Homo sapiens: one gene and its partner. The protein of the gene in region 1 purifies or fractionates together with the protein of each later gene. This does not show direct contact. Each region holds a gene or a part of one and is shown on either strand. Other genes may lie near its edges. The genes, in order: CCSER1 and PGAM4.

Region 1 (4,420 bases):
TTCCTTTTGTCTAATTTATGAAAAATGTTTCCTATAATTGTCTCCCAAAAGCAGAGTTGTCCCCATGCTGTAATATACATTGACCACTCAGATTCATTTAAAAAATACATCTTGCTTTTATTCCCAATATAACCACATTTCAGAAGTTAGATCATAGCCAGTTAGATTACACAGAGCGTGCGCACGCGCACGCGCACACACAAACACACCTTGAAAAAACTGTAGATCACTTGATTTCTGGAAGTTTTTCTCAATACCTCAGTGCACCTGATCACAACATCTTGTAATCTGGGCAGAAGGTAAGGGAGGTGATGTTAGGCGTACAAACTTAATATTGGGGATGCATTTTCTACCTAGAAATGGTCCTACATTCTACCAGAATGGGTTAAAAACAGATGCGCGCGCGCACACACACACACACACACACACAGAATTAAATGCACTACATTTGCTGTATTGCCTGCTAAAGGCATAAATATACTGGAGTGGAGATAAAGAAGGGGATGGATGGGAAAGAGTTCAGTACTTAGTGTAAACCTGAAAGGAAATGAGGCAGTGCAAGGGGAGAGAGGATCAGGGGAAAATAAATTATGTAGGCAACAGAACCATGCATCAAAAGTCTTTTCGATTTCTAAACTGGCAAATTTTCTCCAGGGGACCATCAGTCAAATGATGTCAAATTGAGCTGATTCTCTTGTAATGCCTGTATTGTGTAGGGCCTTCCTTGTAGGAACACAAGTTCCACTCTCGGACACAGTCGCAGTGCTTGCATTATCTTACAGAATTGATTGCTGCAAATGGTTCCTGGGAGGTGTGACCTGCTTAAAGGAAAGAAGCTAGGTTTCTTTTCTTGTTACTGAGGAATGAAGACACTTGTCAGGATGTGAATTGTGTGGGTGAGAAGGAAAAGCGGCGAAAGAATCTGGTAATTCCTTCCCTTACAGGAGGAAGAGAAAAAAGATAACATCGGAACCTTGGAGAGGAGAAATACAGTGCATTTATTTCCAGCATCCCCGCAGTCACTTCACGTCTCTTCAGACTTCCCCTATTCTTTAGTCTTGACCTGCCTATGCACTTGAACTCCACATAAGCACTAGGATGGACTGGGGGAAAAGGCCAGGTCAGCACGGTGGGATACTGCTTCCCCTAAAATGAAAACTCAGCAGCGGGCCAGCAGTGGGTGTGCGCGCGTCGATGCCAGAGGATGCGTGCGTGGAATCCGGCGGACGCAGTGGGCCGGGCACCGCCCTCCAAGCCGCCCCGCCCAGCCCACCACACTCCTCCTTGTATAAAGGCCGCGCTTGGGCCCGCCCTCCTCACAGCCCCGGAGCGCGGCCTGCCGGGGAGGTGGATCTCGCGCTCCCCACACAGTCACACTCCGCGCACTCACACACTTGGAAGCGCCTCCCCACGTCCCTCCCCTGCCCTCCTCTTGCTCTGCTCTTCTCTCCCTCACCACAAATAGTCGCCGACCTACTGCCAATCCGCCTCTCCTCTCTCTCTCTCTCTGTCTCAACATGACTGACTGGGAAGCGGTGGCTCGGGCAGAGCAGCTCCGCTGGCGCAGGCAGGAGGAGCAGGAGGATTATTAAATAACGCAGCTGGACTCTGTGCAACTGGGAGTGGAGAGGAGCCCAACAGCCGAGAAGGGGAGGGAGGGCAGAGGAGGGGGACCAGGAAGGACACCCCCGTGCCCCGAAGACATAAATCCCTGAGTGCCCGGGAGGAGCCTTAACAAGCGCACGGAGCCCTCAAGGTAGTAACGCCCCTGGTGCCTCAGCGCTCAGCGGGTCGCGCGTCGCGTCGCCGCTTTGCGGGGCCGGCCGCAGGCGGACGCGGGGATGACCGCTCGGCAGGTGACCGCGCCGTGTCGGGGCCGCCTGCGAGCAGCGCGCGCCCAGGCCCGGCGTGCTCGGCGCAGAGACCTGGCCTTGCGGGCGGGGTGGGAAGGAGGCGGGCGGGCTCGCTCACCACCGGCCCGCGACTCCCAGTGCGCCGCGTGGCCATTTCCTCCACGCTGCTGCGTGGTTTGCTGCCTGCGGCCGCGGCGGCCGCTCCAGGGCGATGCGGAGCGCTGGCCAAGGCGGCGAGAGTTGGCGCAGGCTTCGGGTCGCTCCCCTTCCTCGCCACTCGCGTCCCGCAGGTAGAGGCGACCGGTCAGCGCTGGCGCCCCGGGCTGCGGGTGCTGAGGCGGGGACGGCGGCGAAGAGGGGGAAGGGGAGGAGGGGGCGGGGAGCCAGGGGCTCCCGGAGGAACCGCAGTGCGGGGCCGGGACCACCTCTTGCCTCCGCCTGCTTGTCCTCTGGCGCCAGTTTCCTGGATTGGAAGCAAGACCCTGCCCAGAGGCAGCAGTAACGGCAGCGACTTAGATTGAACCACTTGCTTTGTGGTGGAGCGTCAAGGGCCCCAGGTTGTGTGCGTGTGTGTGTGTGTGTGTGTGTGCGCGCGCGCGCGCGCTCTGGACTAACCAGTGGGTTGGTTCACCTGAGCAGAAAGTCAGCCGTAAGCTGAAACCGCATGTGGCCCCCTGGCCCCTTCGACTTTTGGCTTGTGTCCCAGGGACTCGTACACACGGTGCCAGCAAGGGGTAAGGGTGACGGAGGGATTTGTGAATGGTGCTTCTGCGTGCGTGGAGGCTGAGCCTTGCTGATGTAAAGGAGGAGGTATCCAGAGTGAGAAGAAAGGCTATTTATGGCAAAGAGTTGTGAAATTTCTTGGGGTTTCCTTTTAGTGTATCCTGAACTGCTCTCTTTCTCTCTCTCTCTCTCTCCTCTCCCTGCCTCAGAATTAGAAGCAATTATGCTTCCCCTTCCTCTCGTGGGACATGGAATATGAAATGAAGTAAAAAAAAAACTCATATTTTTACAGGTAGAAAAAAATACTTCTTAGAAGTTACAGATTCTTTGCCCTTTAATGTTTTTATGTCCTCTTCTCCACCCCTCTTACCTTTTCAGGCAGTCAGTAGGACTTACAAGTCAGAAAATACCTACTTGGTTTCAACAGCTTTCATTTCTGAAATCTTTACAGTTGAATACCTTCCTATTGAAATGTAACACACATCCTCCCTTCTCTGCCCCTCAAGGACTATTAAAAATAATGTGTACACGTTTAAAGTAAAGCTGGTTTTATTAACAGCCTTAGGGAAAACGGATAAGAGGACACCTAGGTGGGGGTCAGTTATCACTGGTTCCTTCAAAACTGGTTATTAAGGGAAGACCTAAAATACTGGTAATCTAGGCTATAATATAATTTGTCTTGGTTTCTCTTTCTGTTTGCTTTATAACAGGTACATGTTCCAGATACGTAACTTGAAACTTAAAGATGCCTTGGGACAGTGCCTGTCACGGTGCTTATAAAATGAATGTTTTCTCTTAAAAGTAGCAACCTGTACTTTTATAGAACTGTGACTGGGTTTAGTAGTAGGACAGTATCCTTAATATTGCAAACTGAAATGTCTCTAAAAGCCTGCCAAGACAATGTTTTTCAAATATTGAAATTCCATGTTGTAACCACACTTTCAATAGTTTCACAGAGAAAAAAGAGAAGTTGGTCAACCTATTGTCAGAGTGATTTGTCTTCATTTAAATTAATTAGTTATTTTGATCAAAACAAACCAACTGTTGTTTGTATTGTTTTATTGCTTTCCTAAACAGTCCTGTTCTTTGAAAAACAAAGCAGAGTTAAGGATTTGATATTTTGATTTTGTTAGATTTATATTACTTTGAAATACATTTTCAACACGGAAGCATGTGCAGCTTTAAATATTAGGTTAGAACTCAGATGGAGAACCCCATTCGGAGGGTTATTACCTCAACTATCCCAAACTATTTGAACATAGATATAATAGGGAATTAAAAAATGTAATTGATGAACTGTATTATTGCAATCATTAAAAGTCCTATTTATGAGTATTTTGTTTTTTGACAGTTAAGAGAATCAGCAACTGTTTATTATTTTAAAGATACATTATTTATACCATAGAATGTTAATTTAGATAAAACAAAGTAGAAAATGAAAAATTTGTTATATTTTTACAGTAATAGTTATTCAACCCTTTATTGCATTTTATTACTCATCATAATGCTCATAATAAAGGGCCTAACGTTTGCAAAGTACTACTGTCTAGGCATTGGGGAGGAACGGGAGATTCCTTGTTCCCTGTCTTTCAGGAACTTACTTGCCATGTGGGAGGAATCTGATGCTCATGCTTGAGCGTAGAGTTAACAACCCGTAACAATAAGAGATTACATGTCTAATGAGTACTACAGGAGTTCAGAACATGACAATAACATTTCATACTGGATTTTGTTTGAGAATGCTTCGGGGGTGGGTAAGACTTGCTTGATCTTGATGTTAAAGGATAAGCAGGATTAGTACATTGTGGATAAGAAAAATATAAGGTATAAGATGCAAGTCTCCT
Region 2 (3,831 bases), on another chromosome or scaffold:
TATTTTAGCTATTCTCTTGCTTTGGGACTTTCTTCTTCCAGATAACTGCTTGGCTAACTTCTTTGTCTCCAAGTCTTTGTTCAAATCTAACCTTAATGAGGACTATGCTGACCACCCTATTTAAAACTGCAACCTACATCCCTTCCACACAAACATACTCTGATTCCCCTTACCTCTGCTTTTTCTTTTGTTTTCATAGAACGTACCACCTTCTAACATACTCCATAACTTGCTGATTTATTCTGTTTATTGCTTATTGTCTGCCTTCCTGTGGTGGTTTTAAAATACGCCCACAAATTCTTTGCTACTCCTTCCTTCAAGAGGTGGAATTTAATCCTTTCCCCTTCGGTGTGGCCTGAACTTAATGACTTGTTTCTTGTTTTTTGTTGTTGTTGTTGTTTTGGTTTTTGTTTTTGTTTTTGTTTTTGAGACTCAATTCTGTCTCGCAGGCTGGAGTGCTGTGGCACGATCTCAGTTCACTGCAACTTCCGCCTCCCGGGTTGAAGTGATTCTCCTGCATCAGCCTCCCCAGTACCTGAGATTACGGGCGCATGCCACCACACCCGGCTAATTTTTTGTATTTTAAGTAGAGACAAGGTTTCACCATGTTGACTAGGCTGGTCTCGAACACCTGACCTCAAGTGATCCACCCGCCTCGCCCTCCCAAAGTGCTGGGATTACAGGCATGAGCCACCACACCTGGCCTAATGACTTGTTTCTAATGAATAGACTACGGTAGAAGCGACAAGGTGTGACTTCCAAGACTAGGTCATAAAAAACATTGCAAGAGGAGAAAAAAGCATTGTGTTTTCCTTGTTGTCCTCTCTCCTGAATCACGCAATCTGGGGGAAGCCACCTACCAAGTATGAAGACATACAAGCAGCCTTATGGAGAGGTTCATATGGTGAGGAACTGAGGCCTCATGTCAAAAACCAGCAAAGACCTAAGGCCTCCCGCCAATAGCCAGGTAAGTGAACCACCTTGGAAACTGCTCCTTCAGACCTAAGTTAAGCCTTTAAACTACTACATCCCCAGACACCATATTGACTACAACTTCATGAGACACCCTGAGCCAGAACTACCCATCTAAGCTGCTCCCAAATTATTGAGTCATAGGAAATGTGAGATAATAAATGTTTGTTGCTTTAAGCCACTAAATTTTGGGGTTATTTGTTACACTGCAATAATTAAGTAATACACTTCCCACTAGAATAAAAACTCCATGAAGATAGGACTCTGTTTTTTCACTGATATTAGGCTGAACCACATGAAATCATCATAGTCAAACACCGGCAATTTCATATAAATCAATCTAATATATCCCATGGAAACAGTGGTTCCTCTGGTGAGGGGAAATGAGTGGTTAGGGAATAAGGGTGGGAAAAAGAATTTTCAGCGTATAACCTTTTGTACCTTTTACTTCAAATGGTATAAAAAGTATTGCAGCCCACCGCCATGGCCGCCTACAAACTGGTGCTGATCCGGCACGGCGAGAGCACATGGAACCTGGAGAACCGCTTCAGCTGCTGGTACGACGCCGATCTGAGCCCGGCGGGCCACGAGGAGGCGAAGCGCGGCGGGCAGGCGCTACGAGATGCTGGCTATGAGTTTGACATCTGCCTCACCTCAGTGCAGAAGAGAGTGATCCGGACCCTCTGGACAGTGCTAGATGCCATTGATCAGATGTGGCTGCCAGTGGTGAGGACTTGGCGCCTCAATGAGCGGCACTATGGGGGTCTAACCGGTCTCAATAAAGCAGAAACTGCTGCAAAGCATGGTGAGGCCCAGGTGAAGATCTGGAGGCGCTCCTATGATGTCCCACCACCTCCGATGGAGCCCGACCATCCTTTCTACAGCAACATCAGTAAGGATCGCAGGTATGCAGACCTCACAGAAGATCAGCTACCCTCCTATGAGAGTCCGAAGGATACTATTGCCAGAGCTCTGCCCTTCTGGAATGAAGAAATAGTTCCCCAGATCAAGGAGGGGAAACGTGTACTGATTGCAGCCCATGGCAACAGCCTCCAGGGCATTGCCAAGCATGTGGAGGGTCTCTCTGAAGAGGCTATCATGGAGCTGAACCTGCCGACTGGTATTCCCATCGTCTATGAATTGGACAAGAACTTGAAGCCTATCAAGCCCATGCAGTTTCTGGGGGATGAAGAGACGGTGTGCAAAGCCATAGAAGCTGTGGCTGCCCAGGGCAAGGCCAAGAAGTGAAGGCCAGCGGGGAGGATACTGTCCCCAGGAGCACCCTCCCTGCTGGTCTTGTCCCTCTGCCCCTCCCACCTGCACATGTCACACTGACCACATCTGTAGACATCTTGAGTTGTAGCTGCAGATGGGGACCAGTGGCTCCCATTTTCATTTTAGCCATTTTGTCGCCTGCACCCACTCCCTTCATACAATCTAGTCAGAATAGCAGTTCTAGAGCACAGGTTCTCAGTCTAAGCTGTGGAAAAGCTCCCCTTATCCAACAGAGTTTAAAAGTAGTGACTTGGGTTTTTGTGAGTGCTTTGTTTACTAAGGACTTTGGGGAGGAACATGCTAAGCCACGACCAATGAGGAGAAGCAACAGAGCCTGTCTGTCCCCATGAGCAGAGTCTGTCCTCTGCTCTTCTGCAGTCAGGCCACTGCCTGGGGGCTCTAGTCATTCCAGTGGAAGATGAATGTAATCTGCATGGTGATGTGACAACTGTTTCCTCCTTGACCCCAGAGGATCTGGCTCTAGGTTGGGATCAATCCTGAATTTCGTTATGTGTTATATTTACTTTTATTAAAAAAGTATAGTATATATTAATAATACAAAACAATAACCCTTCTGGGGTTTCTTGTGGCGGTTGAAATAGTCCCACATGTGGTCATCAGAAAATAAGCCATTCCTCATACCAATATAGGATCAGCTCCTTGACCTCTGAGGGGCAGGAGTGCTTCCTGGTGTGTGTATTAGAATCCCTTCCTGCCTTGTTTCATGGCAGTGAAATGCCTCTTGGTCCTGTCCAAGTGTGTCTTTCACTGATTTCTGAATCATGTTCTAGTTGCTTGACCCTGCCACATGGGCCCAGTGTTCATCTGAGCATAACTGTACTAAATCCTTTTACCAGATCAGTATAATAAAGGAGTGATGTGCAATTAAAAAAAAAAAGTATTACAACATCATTTTAGTTTTGGTGAGCTCAGAGAAACTTAAGCAGAAAATGCTGAACCATGCCCGCTGCTACTAACAAAGCAAGATGATTAATGGACTCTTGTAACTTCTCCAACTAATTTCTGTGGAGCTTTGAACAATTAGACCACCCAGTCTATGGTATTATGTTATGGAAGCCTGAACTAAGACATATGCATTCTTTTTTAAATTGGGATATAATTCACATGCTATAAAATTCAGCCTTTTAACCTACAGAATGGGAGAAAACATTTTGCAATCTACCCATCTGACAAAGGTCTAATATCCAGAATCTACAAGGAACTTAAACAATTTACAAGAAAAAAACAACCCCATCAAAAAGTGGGCAAAGGATATGAATAGACATTTCTCAAAAGAAGACATTTATGCGGCCAACAAACATATGAAAAAAAGCTCAACATCACAGATCATCAGAGAAATGCAAATCAAAACCACAATGAGATACCATCTCACACCAGTCAGAATAGCAATTATTAAAAACTCAGGAAACAATAGATGCTGGTGAGGCTGTGGGGAAATAGGAACGCTTTTACACTGTTGGTGGGAATGTGAATTAGTTCAACTATTGTGGAAGACAGTATGGCGATTCCTCGAGGATCTAGAACCAGAAATACCATTTGACCCAGCAACCCCATTACTGGGTA

The links.
Region 2: the proteins of CCSER1 (region 1) and PGAM4 purify together in Homo sapiens (affinity purification with mass spectrometry; one large-scale study listed by BioGRID and IntAct). This does not show direct contact.

What each region holds. Positions count from the first base shown.
Region 1 is NC_000004.12:90,126,076-90,130,495, forward strand, and holds the start of CCSER1 (serine-rich coiled-coil domain-containing protein 1), read left to right. Parts: upstream 1-1,318; 5' UTR 1,319-1,756; intron 1,757-2,250; exon of another isoform or gene 2,251-2,410; intron 2,411-2,462; exon of another isoform or gene 2,463-2,587; intron 2,588-4,420.
Region 2 is NC_000023.11:77,967,263-77,971,093, reverse strand, and holds PGAM4 (phosphoglycerate mutase 4), read left to right. Parts: upstream 1-1,455; coding exon 1,456-2,220; 3' UTR 2,221-3,145; downstream 3,146-3,831.